2 linked regions of the Homo sapiens genome follow. The protein of the gene in region 1 interacts with the protein of each later gene in a pairwise test. Each region holds a gene or a part of one and is shown in the gene's direction. Other genes may lie near its edges. The genes, in order: TESK1 and SPRY4.

The links.
Region 2: the proteins of TESK1 (region 1) and SPRY4 interact in binary tests that used the Homo sapiens proteins (3 or more experiments, as listed by UniProt).

The regions. Positions count from the first base shown.
Region 1 is NC_000009.12:35,601,221-35,608,475, forward strand, and holds the start of TESK1 (dual specificity testis-specific protein kinase 1), read left to right. Parts: upstream 1-4,041; 5' UTR 4,042-4,399; coding exon 4,400-4,618; intron 4,619-4,763; coding exon 4,764-4,885; intron 4,886-5,016; coding exon 5,017-5,065; intron 5,066-5,616; coding exon 5,617-5,763; intron 5,764-6,106; coding exon 6,107-6,189; intron 6,190-6,361; coding exon 6,362-6,452; intron 6,453-6,707; coding exon 6,708-6,791; intron 6,792-6,873; exon of another isoform or gene 6,874-6,939; coding exon 6,940-7,029; intron 7,030-7,174; coding exon 7,175-7,255. UniProt on the Homo sapiens protein: Dual specificity protein kinase activity catalyzing autophosphorylation and phosphorylation of exogenous substrates on both serine/threonine and tyrosine residues.
Region 2 is NC_000005.10:142,309,713-142,315,060, reverse strand, and holds the end of SPRY4 (protein sprouty homolog 4), read left to right. Parts: coding exon 1-852; 3' UTR 853-4,631; downstream 4,632-5,348. UniProt on the Homo sapiens protein: Suppresses the insulin receptor and EGFR-transduced MAPK signaling pathway, but does not inhibit MAPK activation by a constitutively active mutant Ras. Probably impairs the formation of GTP-Ras.

The DNA.
Region 1 (7,255 bases):
GGTTGCAGTGAGCTTTGTGCCACTGCACTCCAGCCTGAAAAAGAGTGAGACCCGTCTCAAAAAGAAAAAAAAGATAACTAGCAATAATTGAGTATATCACATATGTGTTAAATTATGAGTTCATAATGGTACTTTAAAAAAAACCTCATCGGTCAACTTTGGAAGATGCTGGGGAACCAACTCATTACTTTGAAAGCTGGTAAAATAAGTGAGAAACAATCAAGTATTTATTCTGCCTTTCCTAGGAAATGTATCTCTGTGTAACAAATAGTTAATGTGGAAAAGTTTCTCCTTATAGAATTATTCTACCTAATACTTCTATAGGAATTCATTCAAAGAAGGAATGATAATATTATTTTCTAACTTTTTATTTATTTTGAGACAGGGTCTTGCTATGATGCCCAGGCTGGACTCGAACTCCTGGGCTCAAGCAACCCTCTCGGCTCAACTTCCCATGTAGTTGGGACTATAGTCGCGTGCCACCATGCCCAGCTTTAACTCCTCTATTAATGAACCTAGACCAGTGGTTCTTATTCAGGGTCAATTTTGTCCCCCAGAGGACAAATGGCAATGTCTAGACACATTTTTTTATTGTTACAGTCAGGAGGAGGTGCTACTGGCATCCATTAGGTAGAGGCCAGAGATGCTGCTAAGCATCCTACAATACACAGGACAGCCCCTACAATAAAGAATTTTCCAGCCCAAAATGTCAATAGTGCCACGGTTGAGAAACAAATATCAGTTATTAAAATCACAAAAAGACCACCACTGTATACCTCCTGTATACCTCCTGATAGAAGTGCTAAAACCATCTACAAATTAGTTTTGCCAAAAGAAATCTAAATTTGATTAAGTTACCAATTTATATCAAATACAGAGGATGGAGGAACATGCTAAATTACCACAGAAATCAAGACTCTAAGAAACTCTACAGGACAAATGAACCAGTTTTAAAAAATAGTAAGAAAAAAGATGGAGAATAAGCATAGATCTGCAAAGACTTAAGAAACATATGGCTGGGTGTGGTGGCTCACACCTATAATCCCAGCACTTTGGGAGGCCAAGGCGAATGGAATGCTTGAGCCCAGGAGTTGAGACCAGCCTGGGCAACGTGGCAAACCCCATCTCTACAAAAATACAAAAATTAGACAGGTGTGGTGGTACCCACACCTCAGTAGTCCCAGCCACTCAGAAGGCTGAGGCAGGATTGCTTGAGCCTCGGGGGTGGAGGTTGCTGTGAGCCGAGATCAACCCACTGCACTCCATCCTGGGTGATAGAGCCAGACCCTGTCTCACAAAAAGAGAGACAGACAGACAGACATATCACCTGCAAAGTACAGACCTAATTTAGATTTTGATTCAAATAAACAATTTTTAAAAATCAAACGTAAGACAGTGAGGGAAATGTAAACAACTGGATGCTTGATGACATGAAGGAACTATTGTTTTTTTTTGGTGTGACAATACTGTGATTTGGTTTTAAAGAAGAATCCTTATCATTTAGAGATAACGTACTGAAACATTTACAGGATGAAATGATATGTCAGAAATATACACAAATATGGAGTGGGGAAGAGGGCACGGGTATAGATGAAACAAGATTGGCCATGAATTGCTCATTGGAGAATCACTGACATAGAAGGGTAAATGAAAGTAGGTACTTTCACCTGGGCCAGGTCAAATATGGCAACAGTACAACTGAGGCAAAGGAAAGCCAATTTTGCACTATGGGTTTCCAACAAAATGGTCTTACTAATCCAAGGTAAATAAACATTCATTTTTCTATTCTGTGTGTGTGTGTTAAGACATTTTCCACCATACAAACAACAACAAAAGGTTTTTTTGAGACAGAGTCCCGCTCTTGTCGCCTAGACAGGAGTGTAATGGCGCGATCTTGGCTCACTGCAACCTCCGCCTCCCGGGTTCAAGCGATTCACCTGCCTCAGATTCCAGAGTAGCTGGAATTACAGGCGCTCGCCACATCAGGCTAATTTTTTTGTATTTTTAGTAGAGACGGGGTTTCACTACGTTGGCCAGGCTGGTCTCATCCTTTCCTGATTGAACCACAGTCACAGCCTCCTTCCTAATCAGTCTCCCGGCCTCCATACAACCACCGCAATCATCTTACAAAAAATAGGCACCTGGCTCTTTGGCTTGGCATTACCATCACCAACTACTACAGTAATTCTCAAACGTGATAAAGGGCCAGAACCCAGTGTCGGTTAAAAGATCTATGATATTAAACAAAATGAGGCATAAATTCCTAGTGTTTACAGATGTCATACAATAAAAAGCAAATTCACAAATTAGTTGTAGATGTTAACATTAATGTGATGAATGAGCGTGTGCTGAAGACCAAACGCCTCCAGAAAAAAGAACAGGATGCACGTGCCCCGTGCAATTCTGTGAGGTTGGCCTGCCTCCACCGGCTGTGGAAGGATTGCGAATGTCTCCCATTCCTCTCGCTCCAAACTTGTGCAATACCTTCCCTTGTACAGCGCACCAAGACAGCATCTGGCCTTCTCTTGACTCTAAGGCATCATGTATCATTTATGACCGTCTTTATTCTTTTCTCAGTAGCCCTCGACAAGCGAGTAGTATTTCTTGGCTCCAAGTCTCATAAACGTGTAACCAGACTCCATTGGAAGACGGTAACCCCACGCGATACGGACTGTGCTTGTATTAATTCTCTTTTAAGCTTACTACAGAAATATCAATACAGTACTTGAGAATTCCTGCAGGACTCAGCCTCGCTTCCTCGAGGAGCTCTCAGCCTGCCTCCGCACTCGAGACGGCAGCTTTCTCTCCCTCCGCCCACCGTTCCGCCGCTAGGTGGCAGGCGGCTCAACGACGCCCTTTTAAACCGTTTGCCCCGGAGTGGACCGCCGGGATCGCGTGTCACCACCCAACCCTAGCGATGATTGGCTATTTCGCCGAGGCCGGAGGAGGAACCAGCGGCAGAACCGGAAGCGTCTGGTACGGCGAGTGCACGGAGTCCTGAGACTGCGTGCGCACCCAGGCACCGCGCCGACTTAAAGAGGCCAGTTGCAGCCCCTCCTCCGGCCTTAGGGGGCAGACCGTGTTCCTACGTGGAGGGCGGAACCCTCACACTGAGGAGGGCTGGGTCACACTGAGGGGAGGAGTCACCTTGAGAGGAGGGGTCACAATGACTAGTGGATTTCCTCGGAGGTGGGGTCTCACTGCGTGGGAGGAACACAGAGCAAGGGGGTGCAGCACTGAGGGGTTCTGACACACTGACGGTGGCAGTGCCACACTGGGGAAAAGTGCCCCCGAAAGGGAGGTGTCTCACTGAGGAAGGGAGGGGTCTCCGAGGGACAGCGTTCTTTGAGGGGGGTGGGATCTTGCGGAAGGACGGGCTTCCCTGCAGGTGGAGGCTTCTCTCTTAGAGTCTTTTGGGCAAAGTAGTAAGAGGGAGGTCCCGGCTGGGTGGTCACAGGGCGGAGGACCTGGACTCTCTTCTTTATTGGGAGGCGGCAGGATGAAGTGAGGAGGAGTCGGGGCTAAGCTGGGTATGGGCCGGCCAAAGGCTTCCTATAGCCCCGGGGTATCACAACCTCCCGTGAAGGTAGAAGGTGTTAGGGAGGCCAGAGGTTCAAGGTGTCGGAGTCGAAGAGACCTGGGAAATGGGCAGGCTGGGCCGGGGCGCAGGCCAGGAAGGTGGACAGGTTGCTAGGCTACCTCTGATTGCGGCTGGGCCTGAGGGGCCTACCTTTCTGCCCCGTTGGTCCCTGGAGCCCAGGAATCCGGCAGGTTTCTGAGCCCGACCCTCAACGGACAGTAACCCAGGGAGGAGAGGGGACTCCCTGGGCAGCTAAGCTTCGCATGCGCACCATCAGCCCTTAATTCCCTCCCGTTATTCAAGCTCAGGCCGGAGCTTATTTGACCCGGGCGGCCCAGGGCATCGCGGCCGGAAAGCGGGGAGGCGGGGGTGCGCACCTGAGGGGGCGTGGCCGCTGCCGGGAGGCCGGGCTGGAAGGAGTTAAGCGGAGGCCCGGCCCAGCCCCGCCCCCGGCAGGCCGCGGAGCCTGATCCCCGGCGGCTAAGCGGAGCAGCCGCCGCCCGCCCGCCCGCCCGCCTCCGCCCGCGGCAAGCCAGCCCGCCGGCGCCCCGGAGCGCTGCCGCCACCGTCACCGCCACCGCCCGGTCCAGGCCCAAGCCCAGGCCCTGCGCGGAGCGGAGCGGCGCGGCGTCCACCCGGGCCCAGCCAGCCGGCGCGGCGGGGGCGGGTCCAGGATCTTCGGCGGATCTTCCATTCTCAGGGCGGGAGCCGGAGTCCGGGCGCCCGGGATCGGGCTGGGCCCGCGCCCATGGCAAGCGCGGCCTGCCCGGGCCCTGGGGACCCTGCCATGTGAGGCAGGCCCGGGCTGGGGGCCCGGCCATGGCCGGGGAACGGCCCCCACTGCGGGGCCCTGGGCCCGGGCCTGGAGAGGTGCCGGGGGAGGGGCCCCCGGGGCCGGGGGGCACGGGCGGAGGCCCGGGCCGGGGCCGCCCCTCCTCCTACCGGGCTCTCCGCAGCGCCGTGTCTAGCCTGGCGCGTGTGGACGATTTTCACTGCGCGGAGAAGATCGGGGCCGGCTTCTTCTCTGAGGTCTACAAGGTAGGACCGGCCGAGAGGGCAGAGGGGCGGGACCGAGCCTTCAACCAGAGGCTGAAACTAGGGGGCCGGGAGTGCGGGGAAGAGGGTCCAGACTCCGGCGACCCGCCCGACCTGCCCGGCCCTCGCCGGCTGCTCCTGCCCCCAGGTTCGGCACCGACAGTCAGGGCAAGTCATGGTGCTGAAGATGAACAAGCTCCCCAGTAACCGGGGCAACACACTACGGGAAGTGCAGCTGATGAACCGGCTCAGGCACCCCAACATCCTAAGGTGAGCGGCCCCAGTCTCTGGGCAGCTTGCTGGGCGGGAGAGAAAGGGAAAGATCCCGCGGGAAAAGTGGAACTGAGGAGGAGCTGAGGCCTTTAATAGCCTATCCTTCTATCTTCCCCATCCTCTTGCAGGTTCATGGGAGTCTGTGTGCACCAGGGACAGCTGCACGCTCTTACAGAGGTGAGGATAGGCCAGGAAGGAGGGATCCCCACCCCCCTTCACCCCCAAGGATAAAGGGAGTCAACAGGCCTGGTGGATCTACGGAGGACTAGTGAGAGGCAACAGGATCTCCTCTCAGGGGAGGCTTTCCTGAACTTTCCTTTAGGCAAACCACATATAAAAGGCCTCAACTGGTCTTATTCTCTGTATCCCCTAGAACAGTGCTGTCCAATAGAATTTTCTTCAGTGACGGAAATGTTCTCTATCTGTGCTGTCCAATACAGTAGCCACTAGCCACATGTGGTTAAATTTAAATTATTTTCATTGTTTAGATTATTTTTTGTGGGTCAACTTGATTAAAAAATTTTTTAAATTATTTAAATTGTTGCACATGGCTAATGGCTATTGAGTTGAACGGGGCAATCCTAGAACATGGATGGGGGGGGTCCTACAGCACAGTCTTACCCCTATGACCTCTGTGATCCTCGGGAGTGTCCCCTAGCGTGTAAGTGGGGGACCTAGAATACAGACTGAAGTCTGACATCTATTCCCATTCTCCTCCTATGCACCAGTATATGAATGGGGGGACATTGGAACAGCTGCTCAGCTCCCCTGAACCCCTGTCCTGGCCGGTCAGGCTCCACCTGGCCCTGGACATTGCCCGAGGCCTGCGGTACCTGCACTCCAAAGGTGTATTTCACCGCGACCTCACATCCAAGGTAGGCTAGCAGGGTGGGTGGAGACATGAAAGAGGGTTTGAGGCTATTAGGTTGTAACTGGCCTGTGGATGTTGGAATATGGATAACAGATATATTAGGATGTTGGAGTGGCAAGGCATTGGAGAATATTGGGGGACCAGGGTGAGGGGAGTGCTCGGAGGGACTGAGTAGCACCCTGTGTTTGGAGTGTTGGATGATGTTGCAATATTGAAGTGCCTTGAAAAACTGGGAGAGCAGAGAGGGTTGGAGTTATGCTGGAGTGACAGGGCTTTGGGTTATACATTGGGAGGCCAGACAGCAGAAGGTGATGAGTGCGTGGGGATACTATGTGTGTGTGTGTCAGAACTGTCTAGTCCGACGGGAAGATCGAGGCTTCACCGCTGTCGTGGGTGACTTCGGGCTGGCCGAAAAGATTCCTGTGTATAGGTGAGATGAATGTCCCTGTTCCCCCCAAATCTCCCAGAGTGCCCCTATCTGATGTCCCCAGAGCCCCAGGGATGTTTCCCTTGGGGAACGGAGGGAGTTCACCTCATCCCCTTTTGCCTGGGGGGGATGCCTGAATAGGATGCTTCTGACCACTCTGCCCCTGCCCCTGCAGGGAGGGGGCAAGGAAGGAGCCATTGGCCGTGGTGGGCTCCCCATACTGGATGGCTCCAGAGGTGTTACGGGGTGAGCTGTATGATGAGAAGGTGAGACATCAACCCTTCAGATCCCCAAGGCCTTCCGAGACCCTTGAGGTATTCTCATAAAGCCCCATCCATCCCCAAAACAACCCTACCAGATCTTCAGGAGTCCCCAAGATCCCTTTGCCCCTCACAGGCACCCTTCTAACACATGAAAACTGTCAAGATCCCCCACCCTCAACCAAATTCTGCTATATTCTGTCAAAATTCTGAAATGAAAACTGTTAATTCTTCCCCGACACTATTATCTCTGACCCCCAGGCTGATGTCTTTGCCTTCGGGATTGTCCTCTGTGAGCTCATCGCCCGAGTACCTGCAGACCCTGACTACCTACCACGCACTGAGGTGAATGTTTCTAGGTTTGCAAAGAAAGAATTCCAGACTAGCTGGCTCATAACCAAGGAGGATTCCCTAGAGGTTGAGGTTCTGACTGGGGAGCAGAAGGAGAACCCAAGAAAAGCTGACTTGGAGGTCCCTCCTTCTGTCCCCACAGGACTTTGGCCTGGATGTGCCTGCTTTCCGAACTCTGGTGGGGGATGACTGCCCACTGCCTTTCTTGCTCCTGGCCATCCACTGCTGCAACGTAAGAGCCTCACACTCCTTCCTGCCCCACCCTGCCCCCATCCGTAAGCTGCCATGGCTGCCCTGTGGGACCCAGGTGATGGGAGGAAACTCAGAGACCCTCTTTCGGAGCACTGAGTGAAGCCGTTCCTGTCTCTACCCATCAGCTGGAACCCAGCACCCGTGCCCCCTTCACCGAAATTACCCAGCACCTGGAATGGATCCTGGAGCAGCTGCCTGAGCCAGCC
Region 2 (5,348 bases), on another chromosome or scaffold:
ATGGTCCAGCCCCTTCTTGACAGCCGGATGTCCCACAGCCGGCTCCAGCACCCACTCACCATCCTACCCATTGACCAGGTGAAGACCAGCCATGTGGAGAATGACTACATAGACAACCCTAGCCTGGCCCTGACCACCGGCCCAAAGCGGACCCGGGGCGGGGCCCCAGAGCTGGCCCCGACGCCCGCCCGCTGTGACCAGGATGTCACCCACCATTGGATCTCCTTCAGCGGGCGCCCCAGCTCTGTGAGCAGCAGCAGCAGCACATCCTCTGACCAACGGCTCTTAGACCACATGGCACCACCACCCGTGGCTGACCAGGCCTCACCAAGGGCTGTGCGCATCCAGCCCAAGGTGGTCCACTGCCAGCCGCTGGACCTCAAGGGCCCGGCGGTCCCACCCGAGCTGGACAAGCACTTCTTGCTGTGCGAGGCCTGTGGGAAGTGTAAATGCAAGGAGTGTGCATCCCCCCGGACGTTGCCTTCCTGCTGGGTCTGCAACCAGGAGTGCCTGTGCTCAGCCCAGACTCTGGTCAACTATGGCACGTGCATGTGTTTGGTGCAGGGCATCTTCTACCACTGCACGAATGAGGACGATGAGGGCTCCTGCGCTGACCACCCCTGCTCCTGCTCCCGCTCCAACTGCTGCGCCCGCTGGTCCTTCATGGGTGCTCTCTCCGTGGTGCTGCCCTGCCTGCTCTGCTACCTGCCTGCCACCGGCTGCGTGAAGCTGGCCCAGCGTGGCTACGACCGTCTGCGCCGCCCTGGTTGCCGCTGCAAGCACACGAACAGCGTCATCTGCAAAGCAGCCAGCGGGGATGCCAAGACCAGCAGGCCCGACAAGCCTTTCTGACAGTTTGTGTCGAAGCCCCAGTGCTCTGCCTGGAAACCTGGTTCTCTTCTGACATCTAAGAAGACTGCAGCAAGGTCAGAGGTTTTAGCCTCCTGAGGCTGACCTTGCTAGTCTGCCCACTCCCTACCCCCAGCTTCGGAAAATACAGAGACCACCACCACGTACCCTGTATTCCCCAAGGTGATGAAGAAGCACTTTGGGGCTTTTTTTCAGGGTCCTGAAACTTTGTGTCAAACAGACAATGCAGGGGCAGGGTGTGGTTTGGGGGGAAATTTTTCTTTTTCAGAAGACAGAACACAGATGTGGACACATATCCGGAAACTGCAGCTGCTTGAATGCCTTCCCAGCCCCTCCTTCTCCCTCCCTCCCTCCGCCCCCCCCCCCTTCCTCTTTTCCATTGTCTTTGGCTCTCACAGGAGCTAGCTGCCTGGGAGGAATTGTTAACTGAGTACCAGGGTACCTTTAAAGAAGACCCTTGGAGTCTTCTATACCTTCTTCTCCTTCCCCATCTCACTCCACCCCACTTTGTCCCTGATGTCTTGGGGAAGGTGTAGAACACCCTAGCAGTTCCTATTGTATATACTTGGGAGCCACTGAGAACAGAGGACGGCCAGTGAGTCCAAGCCTCGTTCCTCCTTCTGCCTCCCCGGAGCCACAGGATGGATTTAGGAGCCACTGCTCAGTGCACTTCTCCCTTCCAACTGCATCAACTAACTCTCGGGGGTGTTCTGCTCACCACACCGTCCTTCGGTTCTTACTGAGTCACAGACTCGCCTGCCCACTACGTGTCCTGGGTTCTCTCTACTCAGATCCCTTCCAGAAACTTTATATGGGTAGAGGAAGCCAGGGCGGCAAATGCGAGACCAAATATCATTTTGCCAATGAGTCTGAGGCTGTGGTCTCTGGATCCAGTCATTATGTTTTTATAGAATAATTAAACCGGATGCTAACGGTGTTTTAAAAAATAATAATAAAACAACTTGTTTCCTTTTGGCCACCCCCAGGAAGGGCTGATTTCAAAATCTGGGGGCGAGCAACCTCAAGGAACACAATTTCCCTCCCTATCAACAAGAGGATTTTAACAGCAAAGAAGAGAGGCAGCACCTCCCATTGGCAGAATGACCGCTGAGCCAGGCTGGGTTTGGGTTTCTTCTCTTCTGATTCTGCTGCTCACTGTCATAGCCTTTTGTGTATAGTGATGTGTCTGTATCTTTAATGTAAATAGAGAGATGATGAAAAAAGAGTCTATTTTAGTGTTAGGAAGCCCCAGCAGGGGAGTCGGAAGAGCTTGGAAGAGCTGGGGAGAGGGTAGGGGAAAGGTTTTTCCAGGGGCCACTGGGTTTGAGCCCTGCTTCTGTGCACAGCCACACCACCCTCTCCCGACAGCCCTCAAAGACGTAGCAACTCTTTCTCTCAAGGTGCTAAAGGACTCAGAAGGTGCAGCACGTCCAGTGGGTAGGTACTTGTTGCATGCAAAAGCTGTAGTGTATCTGGTCCTTCCTCCCCAGCTTTTGTGTGGGGTTCTTGCTTTGTGTGGTATTTTGTTTTCCCCTCTAATGAGAGGGCATGGCCTGAGTCAGAAGAGCTACCCCAGGTGAAACTGGAAGTGCATGAGGCAGAGCGTCCGTAGCATTTCCAGTTTGTTCTGTATAGGAACAGAGGTGCCTCCGGGAAGGAGGCAGCGAGGTAGGTAGCTATGATAGGCACCTAATGCTTCTCAAGGACTTATTTTTTCCTTCTTGAAGACTAGTAGTAACATCTTATGATTTAGAGTAAGTTGATTGTAACCATAGGTATTTATTGATTGGAGGAAGGGAGGGTCATATTATTTTCGGCTTTATTTATGTAACATTTGCTAGCTTGTAAAAGGCGAATGTGAAATATTGCATCTGCATTTTCCAAGGCTGATTCGTGTAGCTACCCTTGCCACAGTTGTGACGGATGTATGGATGTTCTTGAACATTTCAGAAGGAGTGGTAGAAAAAAACACACATTCAGCCAACCACTTATATGAATTGAATGTATCAGAAGTGTACTGAAGGGACTGGAGATGGTTTTCCTCAGATGAGGGGGCCCCAAAATTGATAGTGCACATCTGCACGCTTTCTGCGAGGCCTCAGAACTTCCCAGGGCCCCTCCCTCAAATTGTCTCCATGGGAAACTTGACCCAGTGGCAAGTTGCACTTTGGTGATCTTGGTGGTCTACACACCCGTTCTGTGGAGAGTCGATTTACATAAGCTGTGTATACACACACACACACACACACACACACCCCTACCCCACACTGACTGTCTACCGACAAAGACCCTATTTCCTGGCAAACGGCCTCCTGAACCCTGACTTTTTGTGTACATACTTGTAAACACGGATTTTTCTGGGTTTTGGTTTGCTTTTTCCTTTTTTCCCCCTGCCCCTGTTCTAGCTTGTTCTTCTTGGTTTGCTTTCAACCTGCTTGATGGATGTCTGCAGAGTGCTCTCTAAGAGTCCACCTCAGTGCCTCGTGTGCTCAGTGGTCATGGGAAAGGAGCGAAGGAACCATCCTTGGTTCTCCCAGCTTGGTTGTGTAGCAATCCCTCAGCATTGTTTTTCTCAGCTTCTTGGCAAAAATTAAAACAACAACAACAACAACAACAACAACAACAAACAGAAGGATAAACTGGCTTGCCTGTGGACCCTCCCCGGCTCTGGGGCCAGTCGAGAGCCACTGAGGGACCCAGCACTCAGAGACACAACACACATGTGTAGCTGCTTCTGGCTGAGTGTGTTTCCTGTCACCAATGGCCTGTTTGGCTGGACGATGCCTCGGCTTGACCTTTTTTGAAAAGTGCTGGTTAGTTCCCGCCCCTGGTAAACCTGGGGTAGGTGGGGGTTCTGTCTTAACTCGAGGGGCACCTGGGATCCAGGACGCTTCTAGGGGGCTCTGGCTGCCCGTGTTAATGAAGGACAGCGCTTCCGCGAGCACCCTGGGAACTGGGTCTTGGGTAGCAAAGCCCTCCCAGAGAAAAGATTGGGCACAACTAAGGCTTTCCTGAGCAGGAAGGGGGTGAAGACCAATCCCTTCCTTTGGTCCTTTGGTACGCACCCCCTCAGAGCTGAGATGGAAGACATGGCTAGTTCTTTTCAGCCTTGTGGAGCCTGTCAGTCGCCATCATACCTCGAGTGAGGCCCAGCTAGATAATGACTTGTCCAAGATGGCACACGTGGAAAGTTGATCTGCACCAGAACCCGGATGACTGTCACCTTGAAGCATCCTGTTCTCCTTCTGTGCTGTCCCAGGAAGTGTCTGGCGGGCGTGGGCAGCACAGCTCTACACTGTACGATTCACTAGGGCATCCTGCGAGCCTCACTAGCCTTCTGGTTCATGCCTTTGACAAGCATTTTTGTGCCCCCTCTGCTTACTGTGACAGTCGATGATGAATCTTGCGTTGCCATTTTCTGCTGTGGGTAACTGCGTGCAGTGTCTTGCCTTGCTTTCTCTTCTTACTGTCCCACAGCTTGGTTTCATGTTACAAACAGAAAAGCTCGAGGCTCCCACCCCGCCACATCCCAACTTCATTTCCCCCTCACTGTAGCCCATTTCCACCCCACCACAAAGTTGCCACAGGTTTTCTTTGTATAGAATATTTATTTTGAAGCTCTATTTTAATAGTATTTATTTTAGAAAGTCTACTATTGTAAGAGTTCTTCTGTTTGTGAAGAAAAAAACAAGTTAAAAACTGAATGTACTGATTTAGAAAATATATATAAATATATATTGTTAAATATACACGGGACTGCCGTTTCTGGTGTGTTTGTGTGTTTACTTCCCTGACCTCTTCAGCCAGCAAGGCCTCAAGTTTGAGAATAAGCAGCCACTGAAAGGGGAAGAGAAGATAGGGCTTCCTGGGCTGGGCAATCCCTTCTCCCAGCTCTAGGACGACCGTAGAACCATCGGAGGAAAGCTGCTCTTCATTATGAAGCGGAATACTGCAAGGAGCTGCTAGAGCCTCCTTCCTGGGAAAGCTGTCCCCTAAACTGGAGTGTGCTGCAGATGGACAGCAAAGCTCCAAAACTGGGAAGAGGTAGAGGGGGAAAAGTGTCATCTGACCTGTCCATTCCTCTCCCTTTATGTCCCGATTGCCCCCAAAGCAGGTTTTCACACACATGAACACACAACATACATGCTTCAAGGAACTAAATAGAAAAGCCCTTGGTCATTTCCGTATTTTCACAGGATTGGTGCATATTGCACAAAACTAGTCCTTTTAGCCTCGAAAGCCTTCCATCCATTTCATGACCTTCTAATGTACCTTCCTTCTGTTTTTTGTTTTGTTTTGTTTGAGACAGCATCCCAGGCTGGAGTGCAGTGGAGCGATCTCACTCACTGCAACCTCCACCTCCTGTGTTCAAGCGATTCTCCTGTTTCGGCCTACTGAGTAGCTGGGATTATAGGCACGCACCACCATGCCCGGCTAATTTTCTGTATTTTTAATAGAGACAGGGTTTCACCATGTTG